Homo sapiens: one gene and its partners. The protein of the gene in region 3 interacts with the protein of the main gene of each other region in a pairwise test. Each region holds a gene or a part of one and is shown on either strand. Other genes may lie near its edges. The genes, in order: SRL, TMTC1 and KCNIP3.

Evidence for each region.
Region 1: the proteins of KCNIP3 (region 3) and SRL interact in binary tests that used the Homo sapiens proteins (3 or more experiments, as listed by UniProt).
Region 2: the proteins of KCNIP3 (region 3) and TMTC1 interact in binary tests that used the Homo sapiens proteins (3 or more experiments, as listed by UniProt).

What each region holds. Positions count from the first base shown.
Region 1 is NC_000016.10:4,240,441-4,244,258, reverse strand, and holds the start of SRL (sarcalumenin isoform 1 precursor), read left to right. Parts: upstream 1-2,178; 5' UTR 2,179-2,191; coding exon 2,192-2,252; exon of another isoform or gene 2,253-2,670; intron 2,671-3,818.
Region 2 is NC_000012.12:29,782,439-29,786,038, reverse strand, and holds the start of TMTC1 (protein O-mannosyl-transferase TMTC1), read left to right. Parts: upstream 1-2,096; 5' UTR 2,097-2,287; coding exon 2,288-2,589; intron 2,590-3,600. UniProt on the Homo sapiens protein: Transfers mannosyl residues to the hydroxyl group of serine or threonine residues.
Region 3 is NC_000002.12:95,307,152-95,310,969, forward strand, and holds part of KCNIP3 (calsenilin), read left to right. Parts: intron 1-3,203; coding exon 3,204-3,369; intron 3,370-3,818. UniProt on the Homo sapiens protein: Calcium-dependent transcriptional repressor that binds to the DRE element of genes including PDYN and FOS. Affinity for DNA is reduced upon binding to calcium and enhanced by binding to magnesium. Seems to be involved in nociception.

The DNA of each region.
Region 1 (3,818 bases), on a different chromosome or scaffold from region 3:
TGATGATGACTCTTTCTGGCTACTTCATACTTAAAAGGGGTGTTGTGTGGGGAACAGAAGCTAAGGGCTCCTCCTGGGGTCGAGCTAAGGGTCCTCGGAAAAAAGGCATGTCCGTGCATGGTTCTGTCTGCAGCACCATTTAGAGTTTGATTACTGTCAGCCATTCTGATGGGTTGTAACACTGGTTTGCCTCCACCAGATGTTGAGATAGTTTCCAGATTCCAGAGAAACCAGGCAGAGAGAAACAAACATGCTCCAAATTTTCTTCACAGGAGTATACCTTATTCAATTATTAAAGGCCATAAATAGTTCACAATAAGTTTTCTTGACTCGTTTTGATGAGTGTTGTACCTTGGGATCCCGGATGAGGTCCCCAACATGAAGCAGCTACATTGTTTGGGGTAAATACCTGGGGTTCATTGTCTCACGCCAAGAAAATTTAGGACACAGACACACATGAGGAGTTTAGGAGCAGAGGTTTAACAGGCAAAAGAAAGAGAAAGAAAAACAGCTCCTTAGTGAGAGAGAGGGGACTTCCAAGAGGAAAAGTCCCAAGACCTTGTCTTTGAAAAAGCAGTAGCTCATGCCTGTAATCGTAGTGCTTTGGGAGGTCGAGACAGGAAGATTGCTTGAGCCCAGGAGTTGGAGACCAGCCCGAGTGACATAGGAAGACCATGTTTGCAAAAAACAAAAAAATTAGCCAGATGTGGTGCACACCTGTATTCCCAGCCCCTCGGAGGTTGAGGTGAGAGGGTGGCTTGAGCCCAGGAGTTCAAGGCTGCAGTGAGCTATGATCGTGTCACTACTCCAGCCAGGGTGACAGAGACCCTGTCTCTTAAAAAAGATTAAAAAAAAAAAAAAAGTCAAGTGCCTACCAGATGCCTAATTCTTTTTTTTTTTTTTTTTTTTTTTGAGACAGAGTCTCGCTCTGTTGCCCAGGCTAGAGTCAGTGGTGCAATCTTGGCTCATGGCAACCTTCGCCTCCTGGGATCAAGTGATTCTCCTGCCTCAGCCTCCTGAGGAGCTGGGATTATAGGCACCCGCCACCACACCCAGTAATTTTTGTATTTTTAGTGGAGATGGGGTTTCACCATGTTGGCCAGGCTGGTCTCAATCTCCTGACCTCAGGTGATCCACCCGCCTCGGCCTCCCAAAGTGCTGGGATTACAGGTGTGAGCCACTGTGCCTGGCCCTGATTTAGTTCCTTTCCTCCAAGGCTGGCTTCTACCTCTTCCCCACACAGTGACACTGTACCCCGACCAGACAAGCAAGTGTCTGCTTTCCCTTGGCTTCTTACAACTGGCTCTCTGGGCCATCTACAAAAAATTTTAAAAAATTAGTACAGCATGGTGGCACTACTGTCCTAGCTACTTGGGAGGCTGAGTTGGGAGGATTGATTGAGCCTGGGAGGTCGAGTGCAGTGAGTGATGATTGTGCCACTGCAGTCCAGCCTGGGTGACAGAGCGAGATCCTCTATCAAAAACAAATAAACAAAAAAGCACTTTGCAGAGGTGACTGAATGTTCTGGAACCCCTGGGCCATTGGAAATGGATATCTGTTGCTCCATCCTCCAGTTTACACCGTAGCCTCAGCTTGTGTCTCAGTGTGCCCCTCTCCCTCTGGTCTGTGCTCTCTCTCTTCCAGAGGCTGGGAAGGTTGTTCCAGGGCTGCAGCCTTGGACCTCAGAGGTCACATGTTGCGGGTTTGCCGTAGCTGACCACTCTCTAGCATGTGGATCAGTGGCTGTTAAATAGGATTTCTTTTGCGTGGCCTTACAACTTCCTCCTTCCAGTGCAGGCGTGTCAAGGTCCTTAACCTGCCGAGACTTCAGGTCAAGTTATTGCAAGTTCTGGGAAGACTCAGCTTCCCAGCTCCACCGCCTGAGCCCAAGGGATGCTCCATTTTATGCCTGTCACCCACGCCCTGTGACCCATGTCATGTGATCCCAGGGCTGCAGGGGTTCGGGGGAAGAGAATCCAGCCACGGCCCTGCCTTCTGGGGCCTGGCAGCTGGGACAGCAGTGGCGCAGCCTGAGCCTCTGCACAGCCTTCTGGGGTCCGGGCTTCTTCCCCATCACACCCTCCTAGTTGCCCTGGTGACTGTGTGACCCCTCTCCCCCCTCCACCGCCTGCTGCCACGGCCGGCCGTATAAATAGAGGCGAGGAGCAGCTGGGCTCTCTTGGCAGTCACCATGAGGGCGCTGGTCCTGCTCGGCTGCCTCCTGGCCTCGCTCCTGTTCTCAGGACAAGCAGGTAGGGCCCCTCCCAGCATGACCCAGCCCAGACTGGTCCCCCACGCTTCCTCCAAGGTTTTCTGTCTACCATGGGTTGGGTAGGGGGTCGGGGCTGATGGCAAACCCTGGCTCTTGGCTGGTGTCTTCTTACCCTTCTCTTTTCCCCGGGCCTGGGGCCTCAGAGAAAGAGCTGGGTGCTGGAGAATAGCAGCACAGTTGCGGGGCCCTCAGGAAGGCCAGAGGAAGTGGGAACGGCAAACAGAGCTGAGCTGTGAGCCAGGGTCAGAGAGGAGTCTGGCCAGTAGATGTGGGAAAGAGGGCCCTCAAAGTCGAGACGGGGGAGCCTCTGAGACGGACAAAATAGCACAGTCTGGGAGCTGGAGGTCGTTGAGGTGACCCTCCCACCTGGTGGGATATAAGGCGGAGGCCCCACTCGGGTAAGAGAACTGGGTTTGCGTGGACAGAAGGGGATACAGTGGGCAAAGGTGGGGACCGTTTTGGGAGCAGTGAGATAGAATTGGAATTGGTTTGGGATAAGATCGGAAATAGAGTTGGCGGTTGGGCTGGAAACAGCATTGGATGCAATTCAGAAGAGGAACGGGGCCCGTTCTGGAGTAGAGCCTCTGCTCGGGGTGGGGGCTTCCATCAGAAAAGGGGCTTGGCTCTGTGTGCTGAGGCTTCCCTTTGACATCTCAGCACTTTGGGTAGCAGAGGTGGTGGCTTGGGTTGCAGCATGGGGGTTATCTATAGGCTATGGAGGAGATGCCAGATTGTTTTGCCACCTCTCTTGTTCCTAAGGTTCCTGAGGCCAGGTTCCCCGAGGGAATGCTTTTAGGGAGGTGCTCCGGGGATCCCCCTAGGATCCGGACTGCCCACCGAGTCTTTTCATGACTCGGCAGTCTTCCCCCAAGCTGGGCTCTGAGCCTAGGTCCGTACCTGGGACTGGAGAGGCCCAGAGTCCAGCCTCTCAGGTCTTTGAGGTTGAATAGGGGGTTGCAGGGGCACAGTCCCTGCAGGGAGAGCAGGCAGTGGGTGGGAACAAAAGCTATTTCTCGGGGACTCAAGATGTAAGGTGGGGGGCTCCAGCCACTGCATGTGCTGCTGGGCCCTGCCCTTGTCTGTCCTTGAGTTAATTTGGGCTCTGCAGGGCTGCAGCGGCTTGAGTGCTGAGTATTCCAGGCGGCTGTCAGGCGGCTAAGTATGGAAACAGCCGCGTAATTGGATCCGGAGCCCCAAGCCGCTGCCACCCTCTCCCTTCGTGGCCGCTCCTGTGCTGCCCCCCAGCCCCAGCTGCTGGGCTGCTACACACTGGGCCCCAGGAATTTTTGGCCTTTTAGGGACATCCTTTATCTTTCCTCCCACCGAGGGAACTGGTCATCTGGAATGTTCTGCAGGCCTCGCTGGGGGCTCTTGTCGTGGGGAAAGGACGCAGGCAGGTGCTTGTGCAAAGGTCCCTTCTCTCTGCTGTCTTTCCTTCCTGGGTCCCACAGCGTGCGTCTGCCCCTGGCCCAACCTCCGGCGTAAAGCTTCCCTCTGTCCCTGCTCCTGCTCAGCACTTGGGCTGTGGGTTTCATCCACTGTGGTG
Region 2 (3,600 bases), on a different chromosome or scaffold from region 3:
GGTCATGGAGCACTCTGATACTGTTTCCATCTAAAAAAGAAAACAACTCCGAGAAGAAGGGGGTAGCCAGAGCTCTTCCTTGGAAAAGGATGACTTAAGGATAATTTGAGGAAGGAAAAAAGACTTTCTTTCTATAAAAATCTACTATTAGAGGCCACTCTTTTCTTTTCTTTTTTGAGGCAGGGTCTCACTCTGTAGCCCAGGCCAGTCTTGAACTCCTGGCCTCAAGCAACGCTCCTGCCTTGGCCTCCCAAAGTGCTGGGATTGCGGGTGTGAGCCATTGCACCTGGCCTAGAGTCACTCTTTTGGGTTAAGACGTTCTCTCTAGAAAGCCTCCGTTAATTATAGGTAAGGATTGATACATTGACCTATTACCTCAACTATGATTTCAGCAAAGATAATTTCACTATCCCAATCAGCTGTTAACTTAGAAAGCTAGACTTTTATGGTGTTAACCACACACACATACAGACGCACACACACGAGCAGCTTTGGGTCTTCCAATCCTATACTTAGCACATTGTAGCACAAAGAATCTCCTTAATATATTTTTATTAAGTTAATAGGTGAATAGGAAAGGCTGTAGTGTGTTATACGGGGAAATAGACTCAGGTGTGTCTAGATATTAAAGTCGGTATATTAAGGTTACCAAGCGTGAAAGATTTTGATGGAAGAATGAAAACATCCATGTCCAGGACTTCCAGTTTCATTTCTCAGTCACTAATTTCAAGTCACCAAATAAACAAAGTGAAAATGGGTGAAACGTACTTTGAGTTACAATAAGTTTATCTTAATTCATTGACTTTTCAACTGCTCAGATGTCTTAAAATTTTTTAAAAAGTAAGTTGTTATAGTAAAGAGCCACACAAATACTCATAGCAGAGGAACAATTTCTGGATTATGTCGGTGAGCTTTTTAAGGGTTTGGGGAGGATGAGAATAAAAGGGTGACTTTTTATTTTCAGTTTTTCTATCTGGATGTGTCAAATTCCTGATAACTTCTAACACTCAGCAATGGAAATTTAGAAGGTGCCTGAAAGAACAAATAGAATTTTCAGACCTGGAGAAATTCTAGTAATCATCACTCTGGGACATATTATTAAAATTAGTATTTTAAAAAAGAAAACAATCTTTCAGAAAGACAGGAAGTTTAGGAGCCAAAGCCAGAGGCCCTAATACAAATCGCCCCCACCTCCCCATCCCCCCATCCCCACCTTCTTCCCCGCCCTGTTCAAACACGCCCACAGCCCAGGAAATAATGAGACCCAAGTGATCCAGCTAGATAGAAAAAGTAGTTTGCTTGGCATCTCCCAAATTATCTTGAGCAAACAATAAAATAAGAAATGTTTCAGAAGACAATTCGGCTCCCAGGCCCAAACCAAAACTCGAACCTGGTACTTTTTGTAAGTGCGGGCCAAGAAAGGGGCTGTAAAGTTAAAGAGCCGGTGGCGCCTCTGAACACACCCGGGCAGGGCGAGCAGGATGTCCTTGTCCAGGGAGACCCCTTCTCCTGGCTTTGAGGAAGGTGCTCCCTATCCCCGCGGGTTCCTCCGCCAAGCGGGACGCCGCGCCGGGCGGGTGAGAGAAAGCCCGGGCAGGAGAGCACAGAGCCGGCGACTGGACGCGAGCGCGGGGCGGGTGGAGAGCGTCTCTCCGGGCGCCGCTGCTGTTGTCCCGGGTGCTGAAAAGCCGGGAACTTCCCGGGAAGCAGCGGCACTTTTCTCCCTGGAAGGTGGGTGTGGGGGTTCCAGACTGCGCACCTGCTAAACCCTCCTGGGTCCCCCGGGAGGGGTCCGCCAGATGTGCCCCTTCCCAGCCCCATTCGGGGGAGAAGGATGGGGGCGGGGGCGTGGGGGTGAGCACAGCCGGACACCGCAAGTGGGAACCTGGGGTGTCCTTCCCCGCAGCTCCCGGGCAGCCGCGCGCCGCGAACCCCGGTCCACCTGCAAGCAAGGCGGGCCGGGGGCAGAGGGCGCCGGGCTGTGCGGGGGAACCGGCCCGCGTCCCGGGATTGGGGGGCGGTGGAAGAGAGAGCGAGCGGGCATGCGCAGTGGGGCGGAGGAGGTGGCGATGGCCGGGGGAGGCGGGGGGACTGCTGTTTATTTGCAGCTGGGCCAACTCCGCGGCGCAGGCGGCGGCGGAGCGCGGGGAGCTCGCGGCGGGTCCAGCTGCCGCAGCACCATGCCCGAGCCCCCCTCCGGGCAGACGCCGCGCGCCGCCGGGGCCCCGGTAGGGGAGGATGCCAGACGCCCGGGAGAGGCCAGGGCAGCAGCGGCGGCGGCGGCGCGATGGTGGTGACCACCTCTGCCCGAGGCGGCGGCGGGGACCGCACACCCTCCCGGCGGCGGGGCTGCGGGCTAGCGCCGGCCGGGGCCGCGGCGCTGCTGGCCGGGGCAAGCTGCCTGTGCTACGGCCGCTCCCTGCAGGGCGAGTTCGTGCACGACGACGTGTGGGCGATCGTGAACAACCCCGACGTGCGGCCCGGCGCCCCGCTCCGCTGGGGCATCTTCACCAACGACTTCTGGGGCAAGGGCATGGCCGAGAACACCAGCCACAAGTCCTACCGGCCGCTCTGCGTCCTCACCTTCAAGTGAGTCCCTCACCTCGCGCTAGCCGCCGCTGCCTCCTCTACCCTCCGCCCGTCCCTCGGACCGGGAGAAGTTGCGGGACTGACTTGGGGGCATTTCATTTTTGCCGCCCTTTCCCTCCACGCCTCCCTCCTCTCCAGGATGTGCATGGCACTTTGCTCCGGGATCCACTGCCCGGCTAATCTGGGCTCTCGGGGCGGTTCGGGAGGCGCCGGCTGGGGAGTTGGGATCGAGTTTCTCAACTGTCTGCCCTCTCAGCGGGCTTCTCTCTCGAGGCAGGGCTGGGAGCGGGCTGGTGAAACCGCCTCCGCACCCCTTCGCCTGCCGGATCGTGACCAAGTGGGACTAGCGCGGACCCAGAGGGTTCCGGAGGGGTGGCGGTGGTGGCGATGCTTCCAAGTAGAGAATTTCTCGGAGGCTGTTGGGCAGCTTTGCAGATGAGAAGTGTATCAGCCCCTTAAGGGTTTCGTTCAGATGAGACGAGGCGGGAGCCTTGAGCTGACAGGGCTGCGTGGGTTCAGGAGAGGGAGCAGAAAACTCTCCCGAGCCCCCCAGCCCCCGCCTTGCACCCTTGGCTGCTCCCAGAGGCTCTCCAATCTGCCAGACTTCTCTGGATCTAGACTTTAGAAGGTGCAGAGAGAGGTAACGCAGAGCCTAGGCTTCTCCAGGGACCCTGGGGCCCCAGCCGAAATAGTTTTTCTTTTACAACCTCGGAGTCATGATTCAGCGTTTCTGGTGTGAATAAGCGTAAAGGGAACCGAGAATATGCCAGGTTTTTGAGGGGTGGAGTATTTTCTTTAATTTGAAAAGAAGCCTAGCTTCTGAGGAAAGAAGAGAAGTGCTCATTTAAGGGAAATGCTATCTTACACAATCAGGAGCTTGACTCAACCCTTTATAATGTGGCTCAGCATTGAAGTTCATTTTAACGCGCCGGTCAAAACTGTTGAAATAATATTGGTGCGCTATTATCGGCGTTTTAAGCCTTTTTGCAACGGGTGTAATAGGAACCCGTG
Region 3 (3,818 bases):
CCCTCAGCCAGATGGAGGAGCCTGGCCCGGAACCCCCACCACCACTCCACCCAGACTCTCTCCACAGGGAGAAAAGACACACTGGGGCCCCCTAGCCCAGGAGGGCATCACAGCACTCCTCAACGGATATTTTTGGAAGGCTGCTGATGTGCCTGAGGGGCTTCGGAACACACCCAGCTCCAGAGACCGCCCCAGGGACCCAGGCCGAGAAACAGCCTCAGCAGCAAAGCCTGTGGTCAAGCCCATGTGAACTTTGGAATCAGAAGACTATATGTGTAGTGTGGCCCTGGCATGTCCCAAAACTTCTCAGGGAATTAGTTTCCTCATCTGTGAAATGGGGATCGTCTTACCGATTGCAGGGGGTTGTCGTGACGAGATTACTTTCAGCTCAACATAGACATCCACTTGGGAGGTGCTCAGCCTGCCCTTTGGGCTCACCCAGCCTTCCCGGGAGGACTGAGCCCTGTGAGCTAGAACCCAGGACACCCATGGGATCTCCCGCACGACCTGGGCCTGGGGCTTCAAGACAGAATCCCTGTGACTAACCCTGGGCCCCGAGAAGCAGCCTTGCCAGCCAAGCCAGTGCTGTTCTGAGATGGGCTGCAGACGGGGCTGGGGGTCCCAGTGAAGAGCTCCTGCCAGGGGCTCCGAGGCCGCCTCAGTTTCTTCTGATGTCCTCTGCTCACCCCCCACGCAGAGCCTGCAGCAAAGAATTTGTGATGTAATGAAGCACCTGCTGCCCCTCTCTCCCCTACGACCCTCCTTAACCAAAATAAAGACTCCTGAATAAGATCATGAATAATGGAGAAAGTGCGTTTCTGACCCAGCCTGACAGGACGTGTGTGTGCATATGTATGTGTGAGCACATGTGCATATGAGCATGTGTACGTGTGTGTGCCTATGCATGTGTGCTTGTGTGTGCATATGAACATGTGTACTTGTGTGCATGTGTGTGCGTGTGTGTGCATGTGAGCATTGTACACGTGTGTGTGCATAGCGTGTGCACATAGGGAGCTTCCCTCAGCACCCCAGGCACCCGTCCACCCCCAGCTCTCCCCCTGTTTCTGCTCCATCAGCATGGTCAGTGCCTCTTCTTGCTGCAGCTCTGGGCACCACTGAGCCCCCTCATTGCTTGGTGAGCCTTGGAGAAGGGGAGGGACGTGCAGGGGTTGTTGCCAAGGGTGTGTCGGAGGAAGGGTGGATGATGACTGTGAGCTGGAGGACTGGTAGTTGGGACCTAGCTGGGGAAGGCCCAAAAGCCAGGATAAGGGAACTGGACATCTCCCTGCCTAGGGGACCACTTCATCAAACACTGACTAGTGGGCCAGCTGCCCATCCCGAATGTGGATAGGCCTCAGGGGACCATGAGCCAGTGAAGCACCCAGAGAATCCTCCCCCAGCTGGAGCCTGCAGTGTGCAGAGACCAGTGGGGGTGCCAGGCCCATGCCTCGGGAGAGGGGCCAGCCTTTGCAGCAGCAGCAGAGCCCTGTCGCTGGGCTCTGTGTGGACGGGCATGGCCAGGGCTGGTGTCCGGCGCTGCTCTCTGATCTCGTCTGCTTTCCAGGACTGGCTCTCTGTGCTTCCCTGCAGGCTGTGACTGGCCCGGGCTCCCTGCTGCCAATTCTTCCAGTTCAAATCAACCTGGGTCAGTCTCTGGCTCTTGCACCTGACAGTCCAACTAGCACAGGGGCTGTCTTCCAGGGCTGCCTCTGTAGAAGCTGCTTGACGGCCCCGTCCATCTGTTATTTACTTTGAACAACCAAATACTTTTCAGGACCGTGCAAAGGTAGCACACACGAGACCCTGTGACCTGGGAAGGGTATGGACAACCCACCCCCTGAGTGGCCCTCTTTACTGGCCAAGGAACCCAACTGCTCAGAACACATATGCATGTGGGGGTGGTGCCACTGCCACAGCTAGAGGTCAGGCAGTGCGTCACAGACAAAATGAGGGCCATTGGTGGGCTGTGGTCCAATGGGCCAGACCACACCTGTCCCCCTGCCACCCCGAGCAGGAGAGGACAGCACAAAGGCAGCAAACTAGACCCAGCAGGTGCACAGAGGTGTGGCCAGCGGCAGCCTGCGGTGCACCTCCCTCCTCTGTGCCTCATGGGCCAGCTGCCAGCATGGGAACTGAGCATGGTGGGCAGTTTGGATGTCAGGATTGGGGGGCCTGAAATACGTTGTAGGAGAGCAAATCCTGCTGCCCTGGGGCCTCCACCATGACCCCAGGAGGTTGTTTTCTGATCCACACCGACTCAGGCACATGGCCCACTGCTTTTTTTTTTTTTTTGAGACAGTCTGGCTCTGTTGGCCTTGCTGGAGTGCAGTGGCATGATCTCAGCTCACTGTAACCTCCGTCTCCCGGGCTCAAGCAATTCTCCTGCTTCAACCTCCTGAGTAGCTGGGATTACAGGCACATGCCACCACGTCTGGCTAATTTTTGTATTTTTAGTAGAGACAGGGTTTCATCATGTTGGTCAGGCTGGTCTCGAACTCCTGACCTCAGGTGATCCGCCTGCCTCGGCCTCCTAAAGTGCTAGGATTACAGGCGTGAACCACCACGCCCGGCTGATCCACTGCCTCTTAATGACCACCCATGACTCACTCCTCCCAAGACTCTCCTGCCCATAGCTGGAGCTGTTTCTTCAGATCCCTGCCAGCCTCAGTGGTCGGTTCCACCAGTGCAGCCCTCCTGGGGTCACCACCCAGCCTTTCATTCATTCTCAGCTTGCCTCAGCATGAAAACTCAGGCAGAGCAGGGGCCCTGCTGGGGGAGTGAGGGAGCCAGACGTGGCTGTGTGACCCTGTACAGATCCACTTGCCTCTCTGGTTTTCAGGCAGATGAGGGATTGGGATCGTGATTTCTAAGGGGCTGTCCAGCTCCGACAACCTGGCCTGTGCCAAGGTGGAGAATCCAATGAGTAAGTCTGGGATCACTGCTGACATCCCCTCTCTGCACCCCTGTCTGCCCCTCTTCCAGGGGTCCCATCTTACACCATAGCCAGGGTGTAGAGTGAAAGGAACCTCCCCAGGTCTGGCAGGAATGGCCAGGACAAGGGGCACTAGGCATGCAGCCCCGGAAGGTGAGCCCTCTGTTGTGTTCAGGCTGGCCTCATCTAGGATATCAGGGCAGCTCGGGACCATCCAGGGGTCCCCCCTCTGAGCAGGGGCTCAGGGCTGCTCTGCCTGTTCCTACTGCAGGAAGTGACAAAGGCGTCGGACGGCAGCCTCCTGGGGGACCTCGGGCACACACCACTTAGCAAGAAGGAGGGTATCAAGTGGCAGAGGCCGAGGCTCAGCCGCCAGGCTTTGATGAGATGCTGCCTGGTCAAGTGGATCCTGTCCAGCACAGCCCCACAGGGCTCAGGTAGGGGCCAGGGTGGGCTGTGGTCAAGGGTGGGGGTGGGGAGATCTGTTCTGAGCACTGTCCTTTCTGAGGGCTCAAAGGCCAGCCTGGGACCCCAGCCTGGGCTACATCGCCCCTGTCTCTATTGGAGGTGTGTTTTCATTCATTCACACCCTTCCCCATTCATTGAGTGCCTGCTTCACACAGGCCACTGAGCTCCCAGTGGGACCCACAGAGCATGGGTACAGAGAGCTGGGACCACACTGCGGTTTTCCAGTTGGCTAGGAAGACAGAGCCAGGCTGCAGAGTCCAACAAACCAGGCTCCACCCTGCCCACTGCTCACGCCCTGAGTAAGCCGGGGCACCTCATTGATCCTTTCTAAGCCTTCCGTGAGAAGCCAGGCTGGAACCTGTCCACAGGGCACATTTGAAGATGGGAAATAATGTGTGCAGTGCCTGGTGATCAGGAG